Homo sapiens: one gene and its partners. The protein of the gene in region 1 purifies or fractionates together with the protein of each later gene. This does not show direct contact. Each region holds a gene or a part of one and is shown in the gene's direction. Other genes may lie near its edges.

Evidence for each region.
Region 2: the proteins of RASSF3 (region 1) and STRN purify together in Homo sapiens (affinity purification with mass spectrometry; one large-scale study listed by BioGRID and IntAct). This does not show direct contact.
Region 3: the proteins of RASSF3 (region 1) and FGFR1OP2 purify together in Homo sapiens (affinity purification with mass spectrometry; one large-scale study listed by BioGRID and IntAct). This does not show direct contact.
Region 4: the proteins of RASSF3 (region 1) and MAP1S purify together in Homo sapiens (affinity purification with mass spectrometry; one large-scale study listed by BioGRID and IntAct). This does not show direct contact.

The regions. Positions count from the first base shown.
Region 1 is NC_000012.12:64,612,575-64,620,494, forward strand, and holds part of RASSF3 (ras association domain-containing protein 3), read left to right. Parts: intron 1-7,920.
Region 2 is NC_000002.12:36,838,681-36,846,600, reverse strand, and holds part of STRN (striatin), read left to right. Parts: 3' UTR 1-7,920. UniProt on the Homo sapiens protein: Calmodulin-binding scaffolding protein which is the center of the striatin-interacting phosphatase and kinase (STRIPAK) complexes.
Region 3 is NC_000012.12:26,940,271-26,948,190, forward strand, and holds part of FGFR1OP2 (FGFR1 oncogene partner 2), read left to right. Parts: intron 1-7,920. UniProt on the Homo sapiens protein: May be involved in wound healing pathway.
Region 4 is NC_000019.10:17,730,176-17,737,362, forward strand, and holds the end of MAP1S (microtubule-associated protein 1S), read left to right. Parts: intron 1-3,017; coding exon 3,018-3,253; intron 3,254-4,091; exon of another isoform or gene 4,092-4,097; coding exon 4,098-4,253; 3' UTR 4,254-4,338; downstream 4,339-7,187. UniProt on the Homo sapiens protein: Microtubule-associated protein that mediates aggregation of mitochondria resulting in cell death and genomic destruction (MAGD). Plays a role in anchoring the microtubule organizing center to the centrosomes. Binds to DNA. Plays a role in apoptosis.

The DNA.
Region 1 (7,920 bases):
AAGCGATTCCCTTGCCTCAGCTTCCCGAGTAGCTGAGATTACAGGCATGCACCACCACATCTGGCTCATTTTTGTATTTTTAGTAGAGATGGGATTTAACCATGTTGGCCAGGCTGGTCTCGAACTCCTGGCCTCAGGTAATCTGCCCGCCTTGGCCTCCCAAAGTGCAGGGATTACAGATGTGAGCCACCGCCCCCGGCACATTTATTGTTTCTATGTTGTATGCAATCATTTATGTATCATCTAGCATATATATTATACTCAGGGTAGTATTATTTAGCATTTAGAATTAGTCTAACATTAATATGTATTTTGAAATATCGTGTTGGAAATCAGGACAGGAAGACATAGTTCGTGGTTGAAGAGCTTCATATGTGTATTTGAAGCTTTATTGCCTGCATATTTTTCCCTTCTAACATAACACATGTAAGGTGCTGAGTTGTAGAAGTTATTTGCCAGGCAGAGAAAGTGTTCTAAACTACGAATTTTAGTGAGCATTGTGGTTTATTTAAAGAAGTGATATGAATGTTTTAAATTCCTGGTAAGATTGGTGAATTAGGGAAGTAAAACATCATAAATATAAAGCAAAACACTCTTAATGTAGAATGTTCCTTTTATCTAACGTTAGATAAGCCTTTTTCTTCATTTTCATGCTGATGATTATAAGAATAAGATAAGCACTTCTGACATACATCATAGTAGTGAAATTTATCCTTTCTCTAGAGAGATGGAAAGAGAGGTATTGCTAGAAGGATCTATTAGAGATACAGTGATTTTTTTTTTTTTTGGATGCTGTACCACCTGGTGGAAAAGTGAGAAAAATGAGGTTTCTAGATTTCTTGAAAATATCCGGAGAAAACAAGATGTTTGTGGTAAATGCAGAATGGGGAGAAAGGGGTGAGGGAGCGGGTGGACTGGAAATTTCTTTCTTCTCTTGCCAGGCAAGGGAACATAGTGCAACTTCTTTCTATCCCCAACAGTAACAAAAACCTTATAAAGAAAATGTTTTCATTTTTTTTCTTACTTTAAACCCCATTCTTAACAACAAGAACAACAACAAAAATGGAAAAGGGTTAAAAAACCTGTCTAGGCCACGTGTGGTAGCTCATGCCTGTAATTCCAGCACTTTGGGAGGCTGAGATGGGAGGATTGCTTGAGCCCAGGAGTTTGAGACCAGCCTGGACAACATGGTGAAACCCTGTCTCTACAAAAAAAATGCAAAAATTAGTCAGGCATGGTGGTGCTCGCCTGTAGTCCCAGCTACTCGGGAGACTGAGGTGGGAGCATTGCTTAAGGCCGGGAGGCAGAGGTTGCAGTGAGCTGTGATCGCACCACTGCACTCCAGCCTGGGCAACAGAGCGAGACCCTGTCTCAAAAACAAAACTGTCTAAAAGATATAAAGGGAACGAACATATGACGTTTTGTGGCAGTTTGAATGTCATGTTTATTGTATCCGCAGGGTCTCGATCAGTACCTGATATACAGTAGTTGCTCAGTGAATGCAAGCTGAATGAATGAATGTTTTCCTGATTTGATAGTAACTGGGTCTTTACCATTTCTTTTTTTTTTTTTTTTTGAGATGGAGTTTCACTCTTGTTGCCCAGGCTGGAGTGCAATGGCGTGATCTCGGCTCACTGCAACCTCCGTCTCCCGCGTGCAAACGATTCTCCTGCCTCAGCCTCCCGAGTAGCTGGGATCACAGGCACCTGCCACCATATCCAGCTAAATTTTGTAGTAGAGACGGGGTCTCACCATGTTGGCCAGGCTGGTCTTGAATTCCTGACCTCAGGTGATCTGCCCGCCTCGGCCTCCCAAAGTGCTGGGATTACAGGCGTGAGCCACCGCACCTGGCCCCTGATCTTTACCATTTTCAAATGTACTGTATCTTATGGTGCTCCCAAAAACTGTATGAAACATTAACTTAATGAAAGGGGGAGGTATTATTTAGTGATTGTATAAGGCCCACACCTAGATAGCAAGAAGGCTGGAACTCAGGTTTTCAGACTCAAATTACACTCTCTATTTTGTTACTTTTTAGCTATAAAAATAATTTTATGGCTCCATATTCCCTTTGCAAATAAGGACACCTAAAATTTAAGAGTTTCTTAAAATTTCTTTTCTTTTCTTTTTTTTTTTTTTTTGAGATAGATTCTTACTGTGTCACCCAGACTGGAGTGCAGTGGCAGGATCTTGGCTCACTGCAACCTCCATCTCCCAGGATCAATTGATTCTCATACCTCAGCCTCCTGAGTAGTTGGGATTACAGGCACCCGCTGCCAGGCCTGGCTTTTTTTTTTGTATTTTAGTCTAGATGGGGTTTTGCCATGTTGGCCAGGCTGGTCTTGAACTTCTGACCTTAAGTGATCTGCCCTCCTTGGCCTCCCAAAGTGCTGGGATTATAGGCATGAGCCACCGCGCCTGGCTGTTTCTTAAAATTTCAACTCCCTGACCTGCATATAGTCATGACAGTGTTTATAATTTGTATTTGTGGATTCACGTATTTGTGGATTCGCTGTGTTTCAAAGGATCCACCTAATCATTGTTTTCAGCAAAACCAAAAATGTGGACAGTTGTGTAATTTATTATTTGCCTTCTTGATTTCCCACCAAAATCAAACTACCTGTAAATACAGGACACATTCAGATTTCCAAAGAATAGAAATGGTCTAAAGTTATAATCTGTCAGAGTGTGTCTTACCTCTTAGCTAAGCTACCTCTCCTCCTGAGCCTTTGGTAGTTCATGGGAATAAGGAAATGAGACAGTATTTTTGCTTTAGAAGTAGGGTAGTCAAGAAGTCTTGAGAAACGTGAAATTGTCTTCTGAACAACCCACACTTTAAAAAAAATTGCGCTGAAGAATTTTACTTCAGTAAGTAAGTCTATTAGACTCCCCATAGCAGGCCTCAACTTCACCCTTTCGGTTTTCTCTTTCTTATTCAAATATTTTTGTGCCTCAATTATTTGGTTGTGTCTTATTGCTAGAATCAACAGTAATGAGCTGCACTCTTTTATTAGTGTTTCCATTAGAAGTTTAGAGCTAGATCACTGGGGTAAAAGAATAGTGGTTTATGACATAATAGGTATTTTGACTCTACTAGCCTTTTTCTTTTTTTTTTTTTGAGACGGAGTTTCGCTTTTGTCACCCAGGCTGGAGTGCAGTGGTGTGATCTCGGCTCTGCAACATCTGCCTCCTGGGTTCAAATGATTCTCCTGCCTCAGCCTCCCGAGTAGCTGGGATTACAGGCTCCCGCCACAGTGCCTGGCTAATTTTTTGTATTTTTAGTAGAGACGGGCTTTCACCATGTTGGGCAAACTGGTCTCAAACTCCTGACCTCAGGTGATCCACCCACCTCGGCCTCCCACAGTGCTAGGATTACAGGTGTGAGCCACCACTCCTGGCCTATACTAGCTTTTTAAATGCTGATTTTTAATTCCCGTATTATGGGGCATAAACATTTTCACCAGACATTTTGCCTAGGGCAAGGTGATTTACACATCTTTTCTGCATGTCTGATATGTTCTGTTCTTACACGATATTAATCCATTGGAATTTTGTGTTTGTGTGAGCAAGATTCACAAAGGCATATTCCTTTAAATGAATTTCAGAAGAAAAAGTTTCCAGTCCTATAAAGCCTCATATTTGAGTAGTATACTCCTTATCCCATTTCTTCTTCTGGCCAACTCACAAGATTTGGAATTATTTGGAAAGCAGTGACACAAAACATTTTTGAAAAGAAAGGCTAAAAATATCCAATAATGTGGTTATTCTTTTTAGACTTCCTTTGGCAGTCAGTGCATGTCATACGGTTAACATTCTTTTTCTGGGAGAAAAAAAAACTGAGTCTGACCAAATACTTTCTAGTGTGGCCTGATCACCAACTCTTAGCCCTGGGCATTAGCCCTCGCATTTTCCACCCCCAAGTCTCCAAGCATAAGTAGCTGTCTTTCAATAAAGGCCCCAGTTTGAAACGTGTATTTCACTCCTAATTTGGCCAAAGGCCATTGGCTAGCAGTCCCTCTTCAGAGGGGATGGTGAAAAGACAGTAGGATATATGATAAATGCATGCAAAGGAGCTTCTCTTCTATATGACAAGTCTTGGCTAACTTAGCCTCTTTGCATCTTCCTCTGTTTGAAGAGCTACACACATTTGCCTTGTAGGAAGTTTTTATTCTCATGGCAAGCAGGCATTACCTCTATTACAAGGCCCCGCTTATTGTTCACCCTGTGATGTAAGAGCTTTTAGGACTCCAACAATATTAGCCTTCTCTTTAATTCCTTTCAGGCCCCATCGCCATCTCAGAACCATGGCCTGGAGTTGCCGCCCTCCATTCTCCTTAACATGTCGACTCAGAAAAGTCTTAAAGCCCGCTGTTCTTTCCCTTCATAGCAAAAATTATAATTTATCATTATATTTTGTTTAATGAGGACAGAGACTAGCATTTTTTACCTACTACATAATATAAATGCTTGGCACTTAAGGTGCTTGAACAAATGAAAGCCTGCTCATTTTGGATGGATGTCCCAGTATTTGGTACTGTTAGTTTTCCTTTATACACAAATGTACACAATGTCTCCCCCTTTCCAAACTAGACCATAAGCCTTCACAGTATCTTACAGGTAGTAGTGATTTAAAATGGGATGATATTGGTAATATCTGTGATTACTGGTTAAGCATAACTCACTTTATATACTTTCCCCTTGTTTTAAGAAAACTCATCATTTATTCATTAATATATTTAGTTGACAATTTATTGTGTGCCTCCTATGTGCCAGATACTGTTCTAACCTCTGGGGTTAGGGTGGTGAACAATACACAGTCCCTGGCCTCTTTTGGCAATGTTTTTAAAAAGCTTACCCAATAGGCAAATGAAAATATCTCTCTAATTTTTCCCTAAAGAGCTTGCTCCTTTAGTGTATTTGAGGAAACTTTGAAATGTAGTTTTTCAGGAACACACCTATTTTGTAGTGTGGTAAAGCTATACATTGATTGATTGATTGGTTGAGACGGAGTCTTGCTCTGTCACCCAGGCTGGAGTACAATGATGCGATCTCCACTCACCGCAACCTCTGCCTCCTGGGTTCAAGCAATTCCCCTGCCTCAGCCTCCCCAGTAGCTGGGATTACAGGTGCGTGCCACCACATGGGGCTAATTTTTTATATTTTTAGTAGGGATGGGGTTTCACCATATTGGCCAGGCTGGTCTTGAACTCCTGACCTTGTGATCTGCCCGCCTCGGCCTCCCAAAGTGCTGGGATTACAGGAATGAGCTACCGTGCCCGGCCCTATACATCTGTTTAGATGGGAATGTTGACGTGGAAGTGTATCACTTCCTGTTTTACGTCCCTGTGTAAAACAATCACATTTCCTTATTGATGACTGTCTTCCAACAGAAACGTAATCATCTTCAAGGTTAGAAAATGTTTTTTAAATAACTTCAACCAGCGTTAACCAAACTGGTTAATTCACCAAAATGTTAACCAAAATTAACCAAATCAAATTTGGTTTATTTTCCAGGTCTCTTTTTTCTTTTCTTTTTTCATTTTTAAAGAGATGGGATCTTGCTATGTTGCCCAAGCTAAAATGCAATTGTTATTCACAGGCATGATAATAGTGCCCTATAGCCTCGAACTCCTGGGCCCACATGATCCTCCTGCCTTAGCCTCCTGAGTATTCCAGGTTTTTCTTAATAGTTTAAACAGGTAGTTCTGGTTTGGCTATCAGTAGTGTTGTCAAATAGCTTTTGTTTGCTTAATTTTATTTTTATTTTTTTTGAGACAAGTCTTGATCTGTTGCCCAGGCTGGAGTGCAGTGGCGTGATCTCGGCTCACTGCAACCTCCACCTCCTGGGTTCAAGCAATTCTCCTGCCTCAGCCTCCCAAGTAGCTGGGATTACAGGGGCATGCCACCATCCCCGGCTAATTTTTGTATTTTTAAAGTAGAGACGGGGTTATACCATGTTGGCCAGACTGGTCTCAAACTCCTGACCTCATGATCTGCCCTCCTTGGCCTCCCAAAGTGCTGGGATTACAGGCGTGAGCCACCACGCCCGGCCTTTTGTTTTTGTTTTTGTTTTTTTTAAATGGAGAGGGCCAGATAATGCTCTAGGAAGGATGTCAGAACCCATAAAAAATGATGAGTATTTGAAATATATGTAAAAACTTAAGTAACAAATCAGAAAATATATTCTGAGATAGAAGTGACCATTCTAAAACTGTGCTGTACAATACAGTAGTCACTAGCTACATGTAGTTTTTAAGCAATCGAAACGTGGCTAGTCTGATTGAGATTGCTGTGAAAAATACACACTGGATTTTGAAGATTAGAAATGTACCCTAAAACTTAAAGTATAATAATAAAAAAAAAGAAAGAATGTAAAATATGATAATTAAAAAATTGCAATTACATGTTGAAATGATAATATTCGATAATATTTGAGTTAAGTAAATTTAATGTTACTTATTTTTTAGCATGGCTATGGAAAACTTAAAATTATGCATGTGGCTCGCATGATATTTTTGTTGAACAATGCTGTTTGCTGAAGCAGGGCTGGCAGCCCTTGCCAGAGGTTTGAATCTCCATTGTCTTGGTGGCTGCAGATGGATGGATGTGGGGGTACCAGCCTGGTGTGTTGGGAAGATTTTTCTTTGTGAAGGGGAACTTGCCCTTTACTGTTGGGGATAGTTTCTTCTCAGCCTATCCAGGGACACACATACCAGCATTTTGGGGTTGTGAAACTTTTGTGTGGGGAACTTCCCTTTTTTTTTTCCACATGAGCCAATAAGATAAAACTGACCTAATGGCATTCTCGGTGCAACTCTGCCTTCAGTTTAAGGACAGAAGAGGGCTCATGTTTCATAGAGTATTAAAGGAGCAAGCTTAATATTTTGCATTTTGTGGACTGTAATTGCTAACTGCTGCTACATGATTCAGTCAGCTAAGAATAATTTACTAATTATATATTGCCTCACTTGGTTCTTTTTCCAGATGCTAAACAAGGTGAGATAATTAGAGGAGGAAAAAGGGTGAGTTTGGGAATTGGAGACCAGAAGGATGGATTTAGAAGATCTTGGAGTTAACGGACTTAGAATATAGTCAGCAAAGAGTTCACTTAAAATTAGTGCAGGTTGCCAGGCGTGGTGGCTCACGCCTGTAATCCCAGCACATTGGGAGGCCAAGGCGGGCGGATCACGAGGTCGGGAGTTCAAGACTAACCTGGCCAATATAGTGAAACCCCGTCTCTACTAAAAATACAAAAATTAGGCAGGCATGGTGGTGCATGCCTGTACTCCCAGCTACTCGGTAGGCTGAGACAGGAGAATCGCTTGAACCTGGGAGGTGGAGGTTGTGGTGAGCCGAGATTGCGCCACTGCACTCCAGCTTGGGCAACAGAGTGAGACTTTATATCAAAAAAAAAAAAAAAAGAAATTAGTGCAGGTTGACTGTGTGTGTGTGTGTGTGTGTGTAGTTTTCTGAATTCATTTTTCAAGTATTGAATATTCACAATGATGCTAGACTAAGTGCTAGAGATTTGGTGGTGAACGAAACAGATTGAAACCTGCCTTCATGGGGGGCGTATATAGGTTCGTCTGACTAGTCTAGATAAGTGAATTTGTGTAGTAATTGTTTTTTTGTAACTGGCTTAGTTTACTTAGCTTGATGTCATCAAGATTTATTCATGTTGGAGTATGTGTCAGAATTTCCTTCCTTTTAAAGGCTGAATAATATATCCATTGTATGTATATATCACTTTTTGTTTATCCATTGATTCTTCCATAGACATTAGGATTGCTTCCACCTTTTGGCTCATGTGAATAATGATGCTGTGAACAGGGGTGTACAAATATCTCTTAAAGACCCCTCTTAAAACTTTTTGCGATATATACCCATAAGTAACAGTTGCTATAGAATCATATGGTAATT
Region 2 (7,920 bases), on another chromosome or scaffold:
ATGAACTTTGTGAGAAATTTTTTTTTTAATCTGACTTTCATTCCTTCAGTATTCTTGCTATAAATTTCTTTTGGAGATAATGATGAAGATTTATTTGAAAATGTCTAAAATGTATGTATATTTTATAAATATATATTATATATATTGTAAGAATATATATAATATATAAACTATATATATATATATATATATATATATATATATATATATATAAACCATAGGTGCATTTTACTGTTTTGTATTTTCATTTTTGGAGGTAGTATACACAGCAGATAATGATGAGTATGATGAGTGTTGTGCTGTTTGCTTTTGCAGTATAATATATAGTTCTAAGTGTTTAAATTACTGTATATACAATATTCATTATAGGCTAGCATGCTTGTTTTAAAGACTGTCATTCTAGTGTATTAAAATCTGAATGTAAGAAAACCTGGCTATTCAAATGTGAATTGAAAAATATTTTATTCTCAGTACTGAACTATTTCCATTGAACATTCAGACTTTTTAACAAAAACAAATATCATCAAGAAGGCAATAGCTAGAAAATGAGAGGTGCCTTTAAAAAAAAAAATGCAGCCTTACAGTGAGGATGAAGATTGAGTTTGGGGAGGGGGTGGGAGGGGGGGCACAGAGAGAGAGAGAGAGTTAGTGTGTGTGTGTGTGTGTGTGTGTGTGTGTGTGTGTGCATGCATGCGTGTGTGTGTGTGTGTGTGTGTTTACCAATCTGTGAAGGTCCTGATTTGTGACCATCAATGTCTTTTTAATGTATCTGCTCAACTTCTAGGACTTCAGGGGACATTTCATGCGCTTTGTGCTCTTCTGAGCACCATATATACTTTCCAAGAATTTTGAATGTGAATTCCTAGAAATTTCAGTAGAGAAAACAATAGCTATTCTTTAATTATAGTAAAGTTCAGGTAGAAGGAGAAATTATTTGTTCACCAAAATTATGGGATCTCATTAATGTTGGCTAAGTAAATGTAATTTTTTAAAGGCTCACTTTTTAATACTTCATATATTTCCCTCTTACAAAACAGCATGTCATGAAGTTCTTATGTGGTAAAGATTCAACTAGTAAATATTTTTAGGTTAAATACCTGAACTAGTTAAAATTCCACCTAAGAATAGTCTTAAAATATTTAAAAAGCATCTCTCATATCTACCTCTTTGTCATTGCTGCCATTTTAACTGAAGCAAATCTTTATGACATCTGAAATGATGGTTGGATGCAATTAAAAAAAAATCTATGTTGGTGCTTTTCTCAGGCTTTGTCATTTAAGTTATATTGTATTAAGATGTCACAAATCAGACTGAAAGGCTTAGAATTAATTTTGTTTTTCTTTGAAAGAATTGCTTAAAATTAACCATCAATGTTTTTAGCGAGTGGAGATAATGAATCTTTGGTTGGTGTCTGTCTGTGTGATGTTTTCAACCAATAGCCAAATAATTATTGAACTTACATGAAAAAGAGTGCTAAGTATAATTTTATTTAGATTACTTTATTCTTTGAAAGTGACTACAAGGCTATTAAGTACATAATCATTCATTTTATTTACTCAGAAGTTGCCTCTCCATTACTGTTAACTTGTTTAGTAATTTATATAATTGCAGTACTTTTAAGTGTTGGACACTGGGATTCAGGTTGTATACAAAGTAGTAGCTGACGAAAAATATGTATATTTTTGTGAAATGTATCAAGCCCTAAAGTTCATTTTAGAGAAAGGCCCAGAAAAACGTATCTGTGTTTAAAAACAAAGGACAGGTCATTCGTCAATTTGAATCATTTTTACTTTTGCCACTACAAACTTTTTAATTGGCAATATCCATCATCCAACTGGATCTTCATGTCAGTGTCAGGGATGCCAGGTTGACAAAGTATTTAACAGATCCTTTCAGTTTTTGTTTTGTTTTTTTAATTCTAAAAAAAACAAATGTTAGGCCAAACAGATCCCTAGATCCCACTCATTGATTCTGGCGGTATTCCTAAAGTGGTGCTTAGGGGGTCAGAATTTTCTGGATCTTTGCTAATCCAAGCTTTAGATTTAATTTAACCAGGACCACATGCTTGTCATCTCTCTGATGCAAATTTTCAAAATCATTTTAATTTAGATTCTAATGTCTGCCTGGGTTTTTAACAGGCTGTGAACCAGTGAGTGCCTTGTTAATGTAGAATGATTTTTCCCCCCTGGGTGGGTGTTAGTTAGCTCCTCTCTGAAAATGTCTCAGAGAATGGTATTTTAATTGACTTGTAGAGAGCTGCTAAATTTGTTATTATCAGCAATCAGAAAGTCTTTGGTCTACCACACATCTCCCTCCCTACTATCTCTTCATTGTTTGGCTGAAGTTTGCCTCTTGTGAGAAAACAATACAACTCCCCTTCTCCACACACTTTTTTTCCAGCCCAGATTAATAGGTATCCCCTACCCTAATCCCAACTCTATGATCTAATACCTTTTTTAGGAGGAACCACTTCTTTTTAATATTGAAATCTGCTGGTTACTTTATGTTTTCTCAAGTTCAGTTGACTAGAGCTGACCACAGGGTGTCATCAATTCAGATTCCTAAATAACCCTTTCTCTCCACACCCAGTCCTCCAGCTGGTGAGCCCTGGGCCAGATTGTTTGATCTTCAGGTATTTTAAATTTTAGTTACATCAATTAATGTAAATTAATCCAAATGCTAATTTTTGTGGTGCAAGAAGTTTCTTATGTAAATTCAGGGTATGGATAAGCTAATTAAGATATCCATCTTTGGTGGCTCTAAGTGTATTATTTGTTTTTAAATAAAGTGTACAAATATAGATAACATGCTATAGGTGTCTCATGAATTGGAATATTTGTCAGATTTGGGATCTAGCTGTGGCTTTACAGTAATCAGTTAAATTAACATAGTCTGATTTGGGGCTTTTGGGGGAGGAGTTGTAGAGGGGTGCAGAGAAATAAAAGGATATTAGACAAAGTATACATGAGTCCAAAATTAATGAACCAGTCTTAATTACTGATTGTGAGGAAGGAGAAGTTTATAGAGAATTTGGGCCTCTGAAAAGCCAAATTAAAATAGCTTCTAGGATTGGGTCAGTGGTACTTTCAGAGACACATATGTTTAATGAATAGGTTTTATGTTTTTCAAATGTTCAGTTTAAATGGCTTTTAAAATTTATACACATATATAAATACAATGTTTTTATTTTTTGTTTCGCTACTTAACAGACATACACAAGCCTTCCACACTCCCTGCCCCTTCAAATCAACATTATTTTTCAAGGCCTTTGGCCTGCCCAGAACTCACAGTCTTTTTGTTCCAATCAGGATCCACAATACAATATGAAATTTAAAAGGCATCTCTTCTGATATCCTTGAAACTATCCACCATTGTTTGGTGTTCTGTATGCTGGTATACTAATGAGTATTATATCCTTTGGTATGTACACACATTTTCAGTAGTGTTGGAAACACCTCTTTTATCTTTTTAATGAGAACTGAGACATGATTAGCTTGAGTAATTTTGGAGATCTATCTCAGGAGGTCATTAAAACTCCAAAAATTATTCACGGATTGATGAACCTCCTGGGGTCAGCCTAAGATTGCCAGGTAGTATTCTGACCTCCTCTGGGTTTCCCAAGATCACTGATGTTTTGCAGGGCCCCAGCATTGTCCTGGCACATAAAATATTCCCAGAACACCTTGGGAGTCAAGCATACCTTTTAACCTAAACATTATAATCATGGAGCATCCCTCCGCCTGTTACTTCTCAGGATGACCAGAACACTCCAGTTCTCTAAGGAAGCACTGACATACGGCTCTGAAAATTGGAATCCGTTTTCTGAAACACAAATTTTAACTCAGTAAGTTTTGTATATCAAATGATTCAAAACCCACCAAACATAAAATGACTCGCTTCTAAGTATCACTCAAACCCTACAAAACCTAACCCTTTCCTTATTCCTAATTGATATTTCACTAAAGGTAATGGTAGTTTCAGTTAGATTGGAAGTCATTATTTGGGTGAGCAAAGTCTGCAATAACCTACTGATAGGAAGGACCTATTTCATAGAAAAGTATCTTGTCCTTGGTGATTTAGCCATTCACCTTACGTGAAGAGTGGTCCAGATGCCAGCTCCACATTGACTTTTTCTGTGTCCCTCTTTAGGTAATTAACCCAGTGATGTAAAGGAGAGCCCACAGTAAAACATCTGTTAAACAGCACTTGGAGTACTATAGTGTTATTAATTTATGTGCTATAATTTCTTATGCCATCATAAAATCTAGTGTATGTACCAGGTTCCCAATTCATTGCCTCAAACAAAAGATTTTTAAAAATTCTAATAGCATCAAATTAAGGGTAATGGTAGGGAAACCCATCATCCACAATTAAATATGCCCAAACTGAAAACTTTAAGAAAAAAAAGCACATGGAAAGCAACGTTTTACATTAATCGTGAGTTGTAGAAATAAACAGCTTGTGGTTTGTATATGTGCCGAAATGTTAAAGTATGCTGGCATCCAACTACTTCCCTTTGGAAATGGGACCAAGACAATAATTTTTCATGCATAAACAAAATTAACTTAGAGCAAAAGTAATTTTATCAGAAACAGTTTATTTTGGGGGCTGGATAACTTGGGTGAGAGTGTGGGGAAAGAAGTACCTTACCAAAAAGGAGAAGCAACTGACCCTGTGGCCTGAGCCACATTGTCTTCCATTTCAACTTCAATGGGCTGGCAGTATACCACTTCTGACCTCAAAGAATGAATGGTTCCAATTCTGGCTTGTCATTGGTCCTTGTTATCTAAATTAAATATTTTTAGGAAATATATCAAAAGTATCCTAGAGCCCCATGGCAAAGTGTCAGAGGAAATAGTTTTCATTATATTTTAGGAAGCTGTAAAAATATAAGCCCAAGTATTTTGTGTCATCTGCATATGTCAGGATGAAGACCAGGCATGTAAGAAATATCCTAAAGTAGCCAAGTGATAATCTCATGAAAAAATATGAGAATCGTTTTTACAGAGTGAGTTCTCTTTTGAATGGTTTTGACTATGCTTTTAAAAACATTTTTAAAATGTACTTACATCTTTTTCGATAGCCCACGTATTTCAGAATATCCTCTTGATAGAATAATATCACTCAGTGTGATTTTTAGAAAAAGAAAAACTCGGTGGTCTCATATCTTTTGACAGTTGTTTGTGAATAATACCCTCCCCAACAACCTTCCCAGTACTCAACTGCTATGTAAGAATGCTTTCTTATGTGGTAAATGTCTCAGTATTTTGCTGCCTGGTATTTGTTCAGTTTCCTTGTATATCTCAGGGTCAGAAGGAATCAGGCTTTCTCCCAACTCTGAAACATTCAGACTTACTTTCTTTTTGGTCAGCCTTTTAACAAGCAAGACAATAAACTCCTTTTGTCAGAATCGATTTGATTAAAAAAAAAAAAAAAGAATGTGCTCCTTATTTCTCATTGCTGTAGAATACGTAGGAATACACATCTACTAATCACAATTAAAAAATAAGAGAATCTTTAGAAACATCATTGCTTTCTGGAGGTAGAAATTTTGAACTTGAAGGTTGTAGTTCCAGGCAATTTTGTGCCCTTGAGGTGTCCAATTGATAGTATAGCTTGCCTCTGCTAATAAATACACAAAAGTTTTCTTTCCTGTGATTTTCAGAAATTATTTTTGGAATACAAAGATTAATAAGGAATATGTGATGTTTATCTCCTGCATTTCAAAATCTTCTGGATTTTTTTTGAGGCATGAGGAGCAGGTAATGAGATTTTTTTTCTGAATATCTTGATTCTCTCCCTTAACCCAGATTTTGCATATTATGCATTGCTCATTTGTCACCTACAAAAATAAAGGTTAATGATTATTTGTTTGCTTTTGTCTATATAAGCTCCCTAAGGCACAGACCATGTTCGTTTTTCTTATGTTCCTCTTAGCACTGTGCCTGGTGCCTTGCCATATAAAAGGTACCCTATAAATATTTGTTGGCTGAGTAATCAGAGAGCCCATTTCAAAATCTAAATTATACAAATCATCAAAGACCAAAAAAAAAAAAAAAAAATCTCTTGACAGTTGATGCTCAAATGCATTTGGTTCTGTGGAGCTTATCCTGAGATTGAGGTCTGCACCTTGACTGGAGAGGAATTTGGACTTTACCTCACAGGTAGCAACAAAATGCCTGAGTAGCAACGTCTTTATACTGCACAGTTCCAGTCCTGCCTGCGTGAAAACTGAGCAGAGCATGGTGGGGACAGGAAGGTGTCCCTAAACCCTGTTGATGACCTCCCATCTATCCCCGGACCCCCATATCTCCTCTGCTCATCCCCTGTTCCCCACTGGCCTCTGATCAGTTGAAAGGGAGCTTTTCTAGCCTGGAACCTGAGCCTGCCTTGATTATCCTGGGCTCAGAACAGGTCCACTTCCACACTCTTTCCTTGCAACCTACAGATGGCCCTACTGACTGCTGTTGTCCAGGAGAAAGACGAACCTCCCAGTGGAATCTTGTCAGGAAAGGCATCCCTCTGGGGAGCTTTCTTTGGAGAGGAAAATTCTGGGACAAAGTTCCTCAGGATGCTCTCAGGCTGGTTTTTGTCTTGAAGATTTTATAGTAATTGTACCAATGTTTATTAACTCTCCTAGGAACATCTCTGTCTTTGGTTTTCTGACAGCACTCCAGCAGGGCCCAGGGCTTTAGCTGAACAGTGCAATTGTTTTAGGAATAAAACAGTCAACAAGTTAGAGACCAACTATTTATATTTAATATTCAAATGACTTTAAATCATTAAAAGAATCAGCAAATTACATATGAAATATTCAACGAATAATCTCAACATTAAACATATACCATGTAAGAACTGTCATTAAAATTACTAAAAATATGATTCCTTTAAGATCAGTTCAACACAGAAGAAAGCAGGAATTTGGCCTGGACAATAGGACATTTATTGTCTGTTAGATTTTAGACAAGTCAACTCTTCTAAATTGGCTTCTCATCTATGAAATGGGGATAATAGATCTGCCTAATTAGGTTGATTTGAGATAACGGATGTAAAACACCTAATAAAATAAGCATCCAGCAAATGACTTGTTCACTCTCTGAATACAGACTTCTGGTCATGTAGTTCGGTCACACTCCTGATAGCTTCTAGAACATCAGGGTTTTAGGAGAAATAGGTTAAAATGAACATCAAGAGTAGCAGAAGACTACTTTCCTTAATATTTGAGTGCCAGCTATATGCCACACAGTTCTAGTTGCTGGCAGTCAGCAGTAAACAAAAACTTCACCTGATGCAGCACATTCCAGGTGGGGGAACAAGTGAAAATATAGGGAATATTAGTGATAAGTGCAGAGGGAAAAAAAATAGAGCAGGGAAGGGGGATGATTTGATGTTTTTCAGGTTAAGAAAGTGACAGAAATGAATTTAAATGCAAAAAACAATGCATAAAGATTCATAATGGCAAAACGAAGCATGTCCCATCATACCCCTTCATTCCTACCTCCCTGATATGTATCTTTCTAATTATTCATACAAATGTGTATACCCAGTTATTACATATGGGGTTTTATTCTACATATTATGCTGCACTTGCTTTTTCTAATATAATGTGTATCATGAGCACCTTACAAATTTTTAAAGGTCTCTCAAATTTATCAGTAAACATATACAGTCTAACGTTAATGAGAAGATATTTTGGTGGGCAGTTTGCTTTAAATAAATGGGATCATGTACGTTCTCTGCATCTCACATTTCTCATTTAACAATGTAGGATGAGAATTTCTCTAAGTCTATCATAGCTCTTATTTCCTTTTTATTATTACAATAAACATTCCTGTGTATATGTTTGTCACCATGATGGTTTTACGTCTGCGGAATAGATTCCCTGGAGTAGGATTGCTGCATTGAGGAGTATGTATATTT
Region 3 (7,920 bases), about 38 Mb from region 1:
CTAAGGGAACGTGTAATTTTAAAAAAATCCTCCAGTGTCATTACTTCCAAAATCTTTCTTCCAAGTTTAAAAATTAATTTTCTTCAGAAAGTGTCTTTATACAGTTCCAAACATGTATTCATTCCACTATTTTCAAGGACAGTGAAAATTTTCTTTGCTTTCACATACAGCGATGTGCCTTTATAAATGCTTATTTTTATATGTAATTTATATGCGTTCTTTCTTGCATTCATAAGATTATAAGTTTATATGAAAACCATAACTATACCTTTTGGTTTTTTTATTTCCATATGGGTCAGTTCATATTATGTACTAATTAATATTAGAGACACATACCTGAACATGAAAAAATTTAAACTAGATTGTTGACATTTAAAGACAGATCTGTGGTGTATCAGTAGCCACAATATTTCTGTGTAGATGTAGTGGTAGGAGTAGTGGATTTGCAGATAAGGGAAACAGAAGTGTCCAATCAGTAAACATTCATTGATCTTACAATTAATGTGATGCCTAATTAAAATGGTTGCTAGGCTTTTATTAATTACCTAGAAAATATTTGAAATTTTTTTCGTCTTTAATTTCTCTTACATTTCATTTATATTCCTATTTATTTTCTGAGGTTGGCTTGAAAATTTTGACTTGAATTTCCTTAAATTTTTCTTAACCAAAATCTAAAAGTAAACAGCTGGCAGTTGCTGTCTTGGGTGGGTGGTGGTTTCTCTTTTATCAGCAGCAGAATGTTCTAAGCCTTCTGCCAGGAGTCTGACTGCAAAAGTCTTTGGGTGGTAAAGTGGGCGAGAATGTGACTAATGCAGAAAAGAAAAAAAAATTTTTTAACTTGCTAAAAAAAAAAAGAGATTCACCTGTAATTTGGACCCGCCTATAGAAAATAATGTAAGTAAGTGTATTATGGCCAGTTAAGGTAGGCACTATAAAAATAGGCCGAAAAGTTTAGAATATTCCTTTTTTACTGTAGTCTGTTTTTTAAAATTTGAAACTTGTTAGAGAGTTTGGAAAACAGTCTTCTTCCTCCCACTCCACTTCCTGGCCAAAAAAGAGGGGAAGCACAATGGTCTTCAAAAAAGGTGATAAAGTAAATGCATATTATAAAATATTTTAAACTTTTGTGTGTGTGGTTTCACGTACAGGAAATGAACATGCAAATTCTTAGAAACTGTTGTCACTGTGTTTCTGAAATGCTAAAAAAAATTATGCTTTGAGCTACCTGCTGCTTATAATTCCTTTCCCTGAATAGGTAGGTTTTTATAGTTAACAAATTTTAAATGTAGTTGATTTTGATAGTAGTATTTCATTATGCAATCTGGAGAGGAGAGAGTGTTTTTCATAAAGTGGATATTAATTACAACTTTAAAAAGCCAATCAGTAAACATTCATTGATCTTGTAATTAACTGTGACACCTAATTAAAATGGTTGCTAGGCTGTTATGTCTGGAAAATATTTGAAATTTTTTTATTCTTTAAAATCTGTCTTCATATACATTCCCATTTCTTTTCTATGGCTGGCTTGAAAATTTTAAAAAATATCTTGGATGTTCCATGTGTTGGGTAGGGTCAGAGAACTTACTTTTTTTCGTTTTCCACCTGATGAGATTGAGATTATTTCTATACAGGTAAAAAGCAAACAGGACCCTGGGAATCCAGTGTGGCTTAGGAATAGGACACTAGACTGGGGATCAGAAATTCTATTTTTGGTACTAGTTTGGCTCTTTCCTTGCTTTGTGGTGCTGTCATTCAGCTTTGTTGGTTTGTTTGTTTGTTTGTGATGGAATCTTGCTCTGTCGCCCAGGCTGGAGTGCAATGGTGCGATCTCGGCTCACTGCATCCTCCACCTTCCGGGCTCAAGCAGTTCTCCTGCCTCAGCCTCCAGAGTAGCTGGGATTACAGGCGTGCGCCACCACACCCAGCTAGTTTTTGCATTTTTAGTACAGACAGGGTTTCACCATGTTGGTCAGGCTGGTCTCGATCTCCTGACCTCGTGATCCACCCGCCTTGGCCTCCCAAAGTGCTGGGATTACAGGCGTGAGCCACTCAGCTTTTTAGATTTGGAATTCCTGGGTCTATTTTCTCATTGGTAAAGTGGGAATAACACTTGTCCTCTTGCCCAAATGACAGTATAAGGTAGTTAGTTATTGCTCAGATTCAGAAAGCTACCAACAGTTTGAATTAATTAAAATTATTACGTAACAGTTTGATTTTCCTCTAGGGTACTCTAGAGATCCATTTGGATAGAATTAGGTTAGAGAGAAGGCAAATAGGTGAAGCAATTTTAAAGAAGAAAACAGTGACTTATACATATTAGATAGGGAGAGTTTATTTTACAGCTGTTACATTTGAGGCAATGTGGTATTGATGCAGAAATAGATAGTCATTTTAAGAGGACAGGTTTCATGATGGTTCTAATTGCATTTCTCTAATGGCTAATGATGTTGAACATCTTTTCATGTTTCTTATTTGTCCATATCTTTTTGGTTCACTAGTAAAGTCTTTTATTCATTTTTATTTGGGTTATTTTCTTATTGTTTTGAGAGACTTTTTTGTATTCTAGATACAAGTCCTTAGTTGGATAAGTGATTTGAAATATTTTCTCCCAGCCTGTAGCTTGTCTTTTCAAACTCTCTAAACAGTGTCTTTCCCAGAGCAAAAGTTTGTGATTTTGATGAGGTCCAGTTTATCAAATTTTTCTTTTATGAATCATGCTTTTAGTATCATGTTTACAAAAACCTTTGCCTAACCCCAGGTCACAAAGATTTTCTCTTATTTTTTTCCTGAAAGTGTTATTGTTTTTAATTTTATATTTAGACTTATGGTCCATTTTGAGTTAATTTTTGTATTAAGTGTAGGAATTATGTTGGGATTAAACTTTTGGCATATAGATGTCCAGTTCTTCCAACACCATTTGTTGAAAAAAGCCAACCTTTCTCCTTTGACTTGCCTTTGCACCTTTTTCAAAAATCCATTGGCCATTTTTGTATGGCCCTGTCTCTAAACCTTTTCTGTTTCTATCAGCTCTATGCCACCTTGATTGAAGTAGCTTTATAGTAAGTCTTAAACTTTGGTAGTGTGAAAAAAACTGAAAACAAATAGTTTCTTCAACTTTTTTTGTTTTCATAGTTGTTTTGTTGTTATCTAGTTTCTTTGCATTTCCAAGCTAATTTTAGAATTAGCTTGTCAATTTCTCTAAAAAAATCTTGCTGGGACTTTGACTGGAAATTGCACTGTTTGTACAACAGTTACAGAAAACTTGACATTTCGGCTGGGTGCAGTGGCTCACACCTGTAATCCCAGCACTTTGGGAAGTCAAGGCAGGAGGATCACTTGAGGTCAGGAGTTCGAGTCCATCCTGGCCAACATGACGAAACCCCATCTCTACTAAAAATACAAAAATTAGCTGGGCGTGGTGGCGCACGCTTGTAATCTCAGCTACTCTGGAGGCTGAGGCAAGAGAATCGCTTGAACCCAGGAGGCGGAGGTTCCAGTGAGCCAAGATCGTACCGCTGCACTCCAGCAGCCTGGGCGACAGACTAAGACTCTGTCTCAAAAAAAAGAAAAAGAAAACTTCCCTACTATGTTGAGTCTTCCAGTCCATGAACACAGTATGTTTCTCCATTCTTTTAGATCCTCTTTAGTTTCTTTCATTAGCATTTTGTAGTTATCAGCAAACAAATTTTGCATATGTTTTAATTTGTGCCCAGGAATCTCAGGGTTTGTTTTTTGTGTTTTTTTGTTGTTGTTGTTTTGTTTTGTTTTGCTATTGTAAATGTGTGTTTTAAAAAAAAAAGTTTTGGTTTCCATTTGTTTGTTGCCAGTATATAGAAAAACAGTTGATTCTTATGCTTGTATCCTGTGACATTGCTAAAATCATGTAGTAGTTTTAGGAGTTCTTTTTTGGATTCTTTGGGGTTTTCTACATAGACAACAATGTTGGTTGTGAAAAGGGGCCGTTTTATTTCTTCTTTTCCAGCCTGTATGGTTTTTCCCCCCTTCCTAGCCTTATTACACCAATGTATTGAACAGGACTGGTGACTGCAGACATCCTTCCCTTGTTCCTAATTTTATTGGGAAAGCAGTCAGTCATTCATTATGAAGTATGACGTTTGCTGTAAGTTTTCTGAAAATGCCCTTTCTCAGTTTAAAAAAATCCTCTTCTAGCTTGCAGAAAATTTTTATTATGAAAGTATGCGGAATTTTTTAATAATATGCCAGTTGGTATGCATAAGTGATTTTCTTCTTCAGTGGATTACATTGGAGACAGCCTTGAATCTGGGATAAACTCCCATTGGTCAGGGTATATTACTCTCATTATGAGTTGCTGAATTTGAGTTACTAATATTTCCTTAAGGATTTTTTATTTATGTTAATGAAGGATATTAGTCTGTGGTTTTCTTGTATTCTCTTTGGTTTTGGTATCAGTAATACTGACATCAGTTTATGAGATTAAAATTACAAGTATTTCCTTTTCTATTATTTTTTTAAGAGATTGTATAATAATTGGTGTTATTTCTTCTTTAAATGTGTGATAGAATTTGTCCTTGAAGCCATCCAGGTCTGGAGATTTTTTGCAGAAGATTTCTAATTACAAATTCAGTTTCTTAAAATAATTATAATAGGATTATTCATAGTTGTCTGTTTCATCTTGTGTGACTTTATGTAGTTTGTGTTTTTTGAGGAATTAGTCCATTTCATTTAAATTATCCAATTCATGTGTATGGAATTTATTATTGTGTTCACTTATCCTTTTAAGGAATTAGAGGTCTGTAGTGATGTCTCATCTTTCCTGATATCCCTTCTTTCCATTAGTAATTTATGTCTGCTGACTTTTTTTCTTGGTTAATTTTTCAGGAGGTTTTTCAATTTTTATTTTTTTCCAAGGACTGGCTTTTTATTTCATTAGGTTTTCTCTGTTGCTTTCTTGTTCTCAATTTCGTTGATTTCTACTCTTTATTATTTCTTTCTATTTACTTTAGGTTTATTTTGCTCTTCTTCTCCAGGTTCCTAAAGGTTGAGGCTTACATAATTGATTTGAGATCTTTCTAATTTTCTAATATAAACATTTAATGCTATAAATTTGCTTCAAAGTAGAGTTTTACATACATGCCAAAATTTTTGATATTTTGTATTTTCATGTTTATTTAGATCAAAGTATCTTCTAATTTCCAGAAACTTCCTTTTTGACTTATTATATAGAAGTACATTGTTTAACTTCCAGATGTTTGGAGATTTTTCTTGTTATCTCTTAATTACTTACTTTAGTTTAATTTCATTATAATCAGAGAGCATAATTTGTACTGGCTAGGCGTGGTGGCTCACGCCTGTAATACCAGCACTTTGGGAGGCCTAGGCGGGCAGATCACCTGAGGTCAGGCGTTCAGGACCAGCCTGGCCAACGTGGTGAAACCGCATCTCTACTAAAAATACAAAAATTAGCCGGACATGGTGGCATGAGCCTGTAATCCCAGCCACTCGGGAGGCTGAGGCAGGAGAACCGCTTGAACCCAGGAGGCAGAGGTTGCAGTGAGCCGAGAATGTGCCATCGCACTCCAGCCTGGGCAACAAGAGTGAAACTCCGTCTCAAAAAAAAAAAAAAAAAAGCATAATTTGTATGATTACAGTTCTCTTAAATTTGTTAAGGTTTGTTTTGTGATCCAGGATGTGATCTATCCTCATGAATATCTTGAGCACTTAAAAAGAATGTGTACTCTGCTGTTGTTGGTTGTAGCATTTCATAAATATCAATTCAAGCCAGTTAGTGGATGCTGTTCATTTTGCCTATATTGCTGATTTTTGTGTACAAAGTCTGCCAGTTACTGAGAAAGGAATGTTTAATTTTTCAGCAGTAAGGGTGGATATGCCTATATATCCCTTCAGTTGTTTGAGTTAGTGCATTTGTATTTTGAAGCTCTTTAATTATAGTTGTATATACATTTAGGATGCTTATGTCTTCTTGGTGATTGGGCATTTTATCATCATGTAATGTTCCTCTGTCCCTGGTAATTTTCTTTTCTCTGAAGTTTACTTTGTCTGATATTTATTTATTTTTTGAGGCAAGTCTCACTTTGTTGCCCAGGCTAAAGTTTAGTGGCGTGATTGTGGCTCACTGCAGCCTCAACCTCCTGGGCTTAGGTGATCCTCCTACCTCCACCTCCCAGCTAGCTGCGACTGCAGGTGTGTACCACCACGCCCGGTTAATTTTTTGTATTTTTAGTAGAGGTGGGGTTTGGCCATGTTTCCCAGGCTGTTCTGGAACCCCTGGCTTCATGATCTGCCAGCCTTGGCCTCCCAAAGTGCTGGGATTATATGGGCGTGGGCCACTGCGCCTGACCTTGTCTGATATTATATAGCCACTCTAGCTCTTTTCTTAAATATAACACCTTTATTGAGATATGTAATTCACATACCATACTATTCACCTATTTAAAGTGTACACTTTTAGGGTTTTCAGTATATTCAGAGTTGTGTAACCATCAACAAAATTGATTTTAGAACATTTTTCCCGCGCAAAAAGAAACCGTATGTTCATTAACAGTCACTTCCCATTCCTCCTTCCTTTTCCTAATCCCTCAGTCCTAGACATCCACTAATCTACTTTCAGCCTCTGTGGATTTGCCTCTTTTGGACACTATATAAATGGCGTGATACATTGTCTTTGTGACTGACTTCTTTCACTGAGCATAATTTTTTCAGTTTTCATCCATGTTGTAGCCTGTTTCAGGGCATCATTCCCCCCTACTTTTTTTTTTTTGCCAGATATTCCACTGTATGAACACATCATATTTACTCATTTATCAGTTGAATAATATTGCTGTGAACATTCATGTACAGTTTTTTGCATTGACATACTTTCATTTTCCTGGTATGTACCTAGGAGTGGAATTGTTGGATCACATGTTTAACCTTTTGAAGAACTGTCAGACTTTTCCAAAGTGGCTATACCATTTCACATTCTTTATATCCTAGCCAACACTTACTATCTTTTCTATTATAGCCATCCTAGTAGGTATATCTCATTGTGGTTTTGAATTGCATTTCAGTGATGGCTAGTTATGTTGAGCATGTTTTCATGTTCTTATTAGCCCTCTGGTTTTCTTTTGACTAATATTTGTACAGTATATCCTCTTTTCCATCCTTTTAACTTTTTTTTTGGAGGCAGGGTCACACTTTGTCACCCAGGCAGGAGTGCAGTGGCACAGCCAGGGTTGACTGCGCCCTCACCGTTCCGAGTAGCTGGGACTACAGGCATGTGCCACCACACCCAGCTAATTTTTAAATTTTTTGTAGAGACAGGGTTTTGCCATGTTGCCCAGGCTGGTCTTGAATTCCTGGGCTCAAGCAATCCTCCGATTTTGGCCTCTTAAGGTGCTGGGATTACAGGTGTGAGCCACTATGCCCGGCCTGTCCTTTTACTTTTAACCTACCCATATCATATTTAAAGTGAATTTTATATAAACAATGCATAGTTGGGTCCTCTTTTAAAATTCTGATCATCTGTCTTAATCTTATCTAAATATAAATGTCGAGGACATTTATATTTAGTGAAATTATTAACATGTTTGGATTTAGTTCTGCCATCTTATCATTTGTTTTCTTTTTGTTCCTTTGATATTCCTTTGTTTTGCCTTTTCTCTGTCTTTTGGGTTATTGAACACTTTTTAATTCATTTCAATTAATCTATTGTAGTTTTGACTATTATCTCTGTGCAGTTATTTTAGGGATTTATTAGGAATTACAATATATGTAAATTTTTAAGTCTACTTAAAATTGATATTTTTACAACTTCAAGTGAAATGTAGAAATCTGATCAATGTATAGGCCTTTTTAGCCTCCTCCCTTTTTCTTGTAGTTATATATTTGCCTGCATAAATTAAAAATCTCATTAGATAAATGTTATAATTCTTGTTTTTA
Region 4 (7,187 bases), on another chromosome or scaffold:
TGGGTGTGAGGTGGGATCTCATTGTGGTTTTGATTTCCATGTCCCTAATGATTAGTGATGTTGCATCTTTTCATATGCCTATTGGCCATTTGTCTGTCTTCTTTGGAGAAATGTCTATTCAATTCCTTTGCTCATTTTAAAATTTTGTTTTACTTTTTAGAGACAGGGTCTCGGTCTGTTACCCATGCTGGAGTGTAGTGCAAACACAGCTCATTATAGCCTCAACTTCCTGGGCTCAAGTGATCCTCCCAGCTCAGCCTCCCAAGTAGCTGGGACTACACAGGTGCATGCCATCGTGCCTGGCCAATTGTTTAATGTTTTGTAGAGATGGAGTCTCACTATGTTGCCCAGGCTGATCTTGAACTCCCAGCCTCAAGCGATTCTCTCGCCTTGGCCTCCCAAACTGTTGGGATTACAGGCATGAGCCACCATACCTAGCCCCCTTTGCCCATTTTTAAATTGAGTTGTTTTCCGTTGCTGAGTTTTAGGAGTTTTTTAAATCATTCTGGACATTAATCCTTTAGCAGATAAATGGCTTGCAAATATTTCCTCCCATTCTGTGAGCTGCCTTTTTATTCTTTTGATAGTGCCCTTTGATGCACAAAAGTTTTAAATTCTCATGAAGTCCATTTTGTCTATTTTTTTCTTTTGTTGTCTGCACTTTTGATGTCAGACCCAATAAATGATTGCCACATCGATTTTTTTTCTTTTTTCTTTTTCTTTTTTTTTTTTTTCAGATGAGTCTGGCTCTGTTGCCCAGGCTGCAGCATGGGAGCACTATCTTGGCTCACTGCAACCTCCGCCTCCCGGGTTCAAGCGATTCTCCTGCCTCAGCCTTCCTGAGTAGCTGCGATTACAGGCACCCACCACCACACCTGGCTAATTTTTTTTGTGTTTTTAGTAGACACGGGGTTTCACCACGTTGGCCAGGCTGGTTTCAAACTCCTGACCTCAAGTGATCTGCCCGCCTCGGCCTCCCAGAGTACTAAGATTATAGATGTGAGTCACCATGCCTGGTCAAATCCAACAGTGAGAAGCTTCTACCCCATGTTTTCTTCCAGGAGTTTTAAGTTTTCCATTTCACATTTAGGTCCATTTGGAGGTAATTTTTGTATGTGGTGAAAAGATCCAGTGTCATTCTCTTGCATGTGGAAGCCCAGCTTTCCCAGCACCATTTGTTGAAAAGACTATCCTTTCCCCATTGAATGTTTGGAACGCTTGTTGAAGATCATTTCAGCATACATGTGATGATTTATTTCCGGGCCTCTATTGTATTCCATTGGTCTATATGTCTGTCTTTATGCCAGTGCCACGCTGTTTTGATTACTGTAGCTTTGTAGTAAGTTTTGAAATCTGGAAGTGTGAGTCCTCTATCTTGATTCTTCTATTTCATGATTGTTTAATCTCCTTTTCACATTGTTCATTGTTCATGTATAGAAATTCAACTGTGTTTTGCCTGTGGACTTTGTACCTTGCTTCTTTGCTGAATTCGTTTATTATTATTTTTTGAGATGGAGTCTCACTCTGTCGCCCAGGCTGGAGTGCAGTGGCACAATCTCAGCTCACTGCAACCTCCACTTCCTGGGTTCAAGCAGTTCTCCTGCCTCTGCCTCCCGAGTAGCTGGGATTACAGGCACCTGCCACCACGCCCAGCTAATTTTTGTATTTTTAGTAAGAGACAGGGTTTCGCCATGTTGGCTAGGCTGGTCTTGAACTCCTGACCTCAAGTGATCTGCCTGCCTCAGCCTCCCAAAGTGCTGGGATTACAGGCGTGAGCCACTGCACCCCCAGGCCTGATTTTTTACATTATTGTTCATAAAGTCTGTTGAACTGGCATTTTCTTGTAGAATTAAATATCTGTGCCTGGCTTTGGTATTAAGACAATTCTGGTCTTATAAAATGAGTTAGGAAGTGTTCCTTCCTCTTCAGTTCCTCGGAAAAGTTTGAGAAAGGCTGATGTTAGTTCTCTAAATGTTTAGTGGCTTCCCCAGGGCTTTTCTTTGTTGGGAGGTCGTAAGTTACTGATTCATTCTCCTTGCTAGCTACAGGTATGTGCTGATTTTCTATTTTTGTGATTGTGTCTTGGTAGTTTTTGTGTTTCTAGGAATGTGTCCATTTCGGCTGAGGGTATGCATTTGTTGGTATACAGACGGGGTAGTACTCTTACCCCCTGAGCTGGGCAGCAGCTGTGATTGTAAGATGCAGGGTCTGGCAGGCTTCTTGTGCCCGAGACCCAGCCGTATCCTTTCATTTCATTGATCATTCACTTGCCCAGGGCTGGTGGCCTTGTCCCCTTTGGCCCTAAGGTCAGGGTTTGGACAAGGCCCCCAGAGCTGCTGTCTCATCCGCATCCAGCATCCCGCAGTGATCTTGGGCCCGCCTCTCAAGGCTCTGTCCACCCACCCTGGCTCCCCATCACCCTTGGGGCAGGGATTCTGTCTGTCTTGGTCACAGCCCTGTTTCAGGGCCTGGTGCCCATGAGGTTCTGTTAAATGCCCCTTGAGCAAGTGAACCAGACAAATGCTGCAGAAGCAGCAGATGGTCCAGGCACTGGCTGCTTTCAGGGCTCAAACTCTTAAACCCTCTTCCAGGAAGCATTCCCTGATTGCCACCCACTCGCCCCCCAGCCCTGGGGATGTCTATGTCCAGGGACTGGCTGGGGATGAGTCAGGCTCTAGGCACAAAGGGGTGGCCGGTGGTGTTTGTAGAGTGAGTGAAGAGTCACTGGAGTCAAGGCGTGGTGACATGCACCTGTAGTCCCATCTACTTGGAAGGCTGAGGCAGGAGGATCACTTGAGCCCAGGAGTTTGTGACGAGCCTGGGCAGCATAGCGAGACCCCATTTCTTAAAATAAGATTCACTGGAGTCATGAGCGCACCAGGCCTCCCCAGAAAACTCTGAGTTCAGGCCTCCTGCTGAGGAGGGAGCTGCTCTGAGTGGTGCAGGTCGAACTTGGAGCCTCGGCCCCTCCCCAGCCCCAGGAGCTCATCCCTGCCTCCCCATCCCCCCGCCCGCAGGGTCAGCCAGCAGCCGGCCCGGGGTGTCAGCCACCCCACCCAAGTCCCCGGTCTACCTGGACCTGGCCTACCTGCCCAGCGGGAGCAGCGCCCACCTGGTGGATGAGGAGTTCTTCCAGCGCGTGCGCGCGCTCTGCTACGTCATCAGTGGCCAGGACCAGCGCAAGGAGGAAGGCATGCGGGCCGTCCTGGACGCGCTACTGGCCAGCAAGCAGCATTGGGACCGTGACCTGCAGGTGCGTGTCACCCCAGGGCCTCTGGTGGTAAGTGTAGTTAGCACAGATGGGTAAAACCACCCTCGACCCTCAGAGACTAAGCTGTGTTCCCCAGGCCACACGGGAATGGGGGCGAATGTGGGAGTCTCACATGGCTCAGCCCTTAGGGGTCTCTTCGGACTCTGATTCTGTCGTGTCACTGTTGTCATTGGCTGTGCTGGAAGCCTGGGGGAGGACGCAGGGCCTCGTGAAGCCTCATGGTTCTATCCCTTCCCCAGACACCTTGTCACTTAGCCATTGTTCCGCTGTGAGAATTAGTCGGGATGGAATAGGTGGGCTGGGTGGTATCTGTGCGGCTGAGAACCCTCCCCCATGGCTGCATGAAGCTGAGAGACTGAAACCAAGCCCTGCAGGGCGAGGTGCATGTGGGCAGAGGGAGGACCGCCTCACACCGCGGCCCCTGCCCTCTCATAGCTGCTAGGCTGGCTTCAAAGGAGTGTCCCTGTAGGGTGCACGACCCAGGAAAAGGCCCAGAGGTAGGAAAGAGGTTGGTGTGTTCAAGGAGCAGGGGGAGATCCAAGTGAGTAGAGAGGGGTCTCAGGCCAAGGAAGGCCTTGCAGAGGAGGAGCTCCGTCTCCTGTGTGCTGAGAAGGCTCTTTGGGTGCTGGTTGGGAGGAACAGGGACCTCACAGACGGGCTGACCACCCATTGCAGACCTCAAGGTGGAGCACACAAGATCAGGGAAAAGCCAGGAGGGGTCTCAAATGCCAGGAAAGGAAGGCGACTTGGGCCCAGGCCAGAAGGGCAGGGGGCACCCCCCTCACTGGTGGTCCACTCTCCCCACACACCCCCCCTCCACCTGCAGGTGACCCTGATCCCCACTTTCGACTCGGTGGCCATGCATACGTGGTACGCAGAGACGCACGCCCGGCACCAGGCGCTGGGCATCACGGTGTTGGGCAGCAACAGCATGGTGTCCATGCAGGATGACGCCTTCCCGGCCTGCAAGGTGGAGTTCTAGCCCCATCGCCGACACGCCCCCCACTCAGCCCAGCCCGCCTGTCCCTAGATTCAGCCACATCAGAAATAAACTGTGACTACACTTGGCTGTGGCCTCTCTTCTTTCTGTGATGGGAGACTTGGCATGTACCTCCTGGTCCTGCGGGTGGGGACAGCTTCCATGGAATCCCCAGTGACCCTGCGGTCAGGCCCACTCTGGCCTCCATGTCGCAGATGGGAGAAATGCAGGCTTCGCTGGGCCTGGTTTGGGGAAGGAAGTGCCTCTCAGAGTTAATGACCACTGACCGGTGGAGCTCCTGACTATGGCCTCCATCCCGACTCAGCAACTGTGAGGGGCCCAAGTTATAGGCGCGAAGTAGCTACCTGACTATCTGTCACACAAACCAGTTGGTGGCAGGGGGAGATTGAATACCTGTCTCTGCTCCAAAGCCATCAAACAAAAGCTATCCTGCTGTCCCTAGAGGAGATGGATGCTTATTCCAGAAAGTCTTACTCTGCAGGAAGGATTTACAGAGGAATCTGAAACCCAGAGATTACAGAATATCCACTTCTGACTAATGCACCCTGACCCCTCTCTGCAGAAATACAAGCACTTAGGTTTACTATTAGATACAATGTCATCTGTACTGGGTTGAATGGCAGCCAGCCCCCAAAACACATTCAACACCTGACCCCTGACACCTGTGAATGTGATGTTATTTTGAAAAAGGATCTTTGCAGATACAGTTTTATTATTTTTTGAGATGGAGTCTTGCTCTGTCACCCACGCTGGAGTGCAGTGGGGCGATCTTGGCTCACTGCAACCCCCGCCTCCTAGATTCAAGCGATTCTTGTGCCTCAGCCTCTCTAGTAGCTGGGATTACAGGCACACGCCACCACGCCCGGCTAATTTTTGTATTTTTAGTAGAGACGGGGTTTCACCAGGTTGGCCAGGCTGGTCTCGAACTCCTGACCTCAGATGATCCACCCGCCTCGGTCTCCCGAAGTGCTGGATTACAGGTGTGAGCCACCATATGCCTGGCCCTTCACAGGGTCTTACGGTCACAGGGTAGGTGATCAGGAAGGGCAGGTGGAGCAGAGGAGCCATGCCTGTGCCTGCCACCTCCTGTCCAATGCCTGCTAGCAATGCCAAGATCGCTAAGCTCAGCCAGCCACCTCCCACTTCCACCTACCCACCCTCCACACCTCTGCAGCGGAAACTTAACAGGGATGGGAGTCCTGGGAGAAAGGCCCCAGCCTAGGCGAGTTGACACAGCAGTGCAAAGCCAGCCCTGCCCAGTTCCCCATCAGCTGGCACTCAAGTTATGGCCTTTTCTCCGTTGCCAGGGTAAGGATGGACCTCTTCTGGGGTCACCATTTATACATGAGGATGATTCCCCTGGGTTTCTTGTTTTGGCCAAACTGTCTAGTGACCCCTGCTGCCTACTTGTTCTTATTTCAATTGTCCCGTTATCAGGGAGGTTTCTTTCTATTTATGGGCTCTTTCTTTTTTTTTTTTTTTTGAGACAGTTTCTCTCTCTTGTCCAGGCTGGAGTGCAATGGTGCAATCTCAGCTCACAGCAACCTCAGGCTCCGAGGTTCAAGCAATTCTCGTGCCTCAGGCTCCCGAGTAGCTGGGATTACCGGCATGTTCCACCATGCCCGGCTAATTTTTGTATTTTTAGTAGAAATGGGGTTTTGCCATGTTGACCAAGCTGGTCTCAAACTCCCGGCCTCAAGTGATCCACCCACTTCAGCCTCCCAAAGTACTGGGATTCCAGGCATGAGCCACCGTGCCCAGCCCAGGCCTTTTTCCTTCTTTCTCTTGAGACAGGGTCTCGCTCAGTCACCTAGATGACTGCAGTGGCACAATGTCGGCTCACTGCAACCTCTGCCTCCTGGGCTTAAGTGATCCTCCCACCTCAGCCTCCTGAGTAGCTGGGACTGCCTGGCTAATTTTTTGTATTTTTGGTAGAGCCGGGGTTTTGCCATGTTGGCCAGGCTGGTCTTGAACTCCTAACCTCAGGTGATCCACCCACTTTGGCCTCCCAAAGTGCTAGGATTACAGGCATGAGCCACTGGGCCCAGCCCTTTTTTTTTCTTTTGAGACAGGGCCTCACTGTTGCCCAGGCTGGAGGGCAGTGGCATGATCATGTCTCATTGCAGCCTCGACCTCCCAGACTCAAGTGATCCTCCGACCTTGGCCTCCCAAGTAAGTAGGACCACAGGTGTGCGTCACCACACCCGCCTAATTTCTTTTATTATTTGTAGAGATGAGATCTCACTATGTTGCCCAGGCTGATCATGAACTCCTGGGCTCAAGCGATCCTACTTCGGCCTCCCAAAGTGCTGGGATTTACAGGCGTGAGCCACTGTGCCTGGCTTACAGGCCTTTTTCTAATTAGCTGGTTTGATATTTTTCTCATTGGGTATTTGTCTTTTTCTCATTCCTACACAATTTTCTTTTTTAAATTAGGGATAATAAACTTATGTGGTAAATGTTTTCCAAATGTACTTTTCCATTTTGTTTAGGCATGATTTTGCTGTAGAGATATATATATTTTTTTGATGGTCTCTCGTTGCCCAGGCTGGAGTGCAGTGGGTGGGATCACAGTCACTGCAGCCTGGAACTTCTAGCTTCAAGTGATCCTCCCACCTCAGCCTCCCAAAGTGCTGGAATTACAGGCATGAGCCACTGCACCTGGCCAAACTGCAACTTTTTTTTTAAAACGGAGTCTTGCTCTGTCACCCAGGCTGGAGTGCAGTGGCGCGATCTTGGCTCACTGCAAGCTCTGCCTCCCGGGTTCACGCCATTCTCCTGCCTCAGCCTCCCGAGTAGCTGGGACTACAGGCGCCTGCCACCACGCCCAGCTAACTTTTTTTTTGTAATTTTAGTAGAGATGGTGTTTCTGTCTCTATTAAGATGAGGAGAGTACATAGAACTTGCCAGTCATTT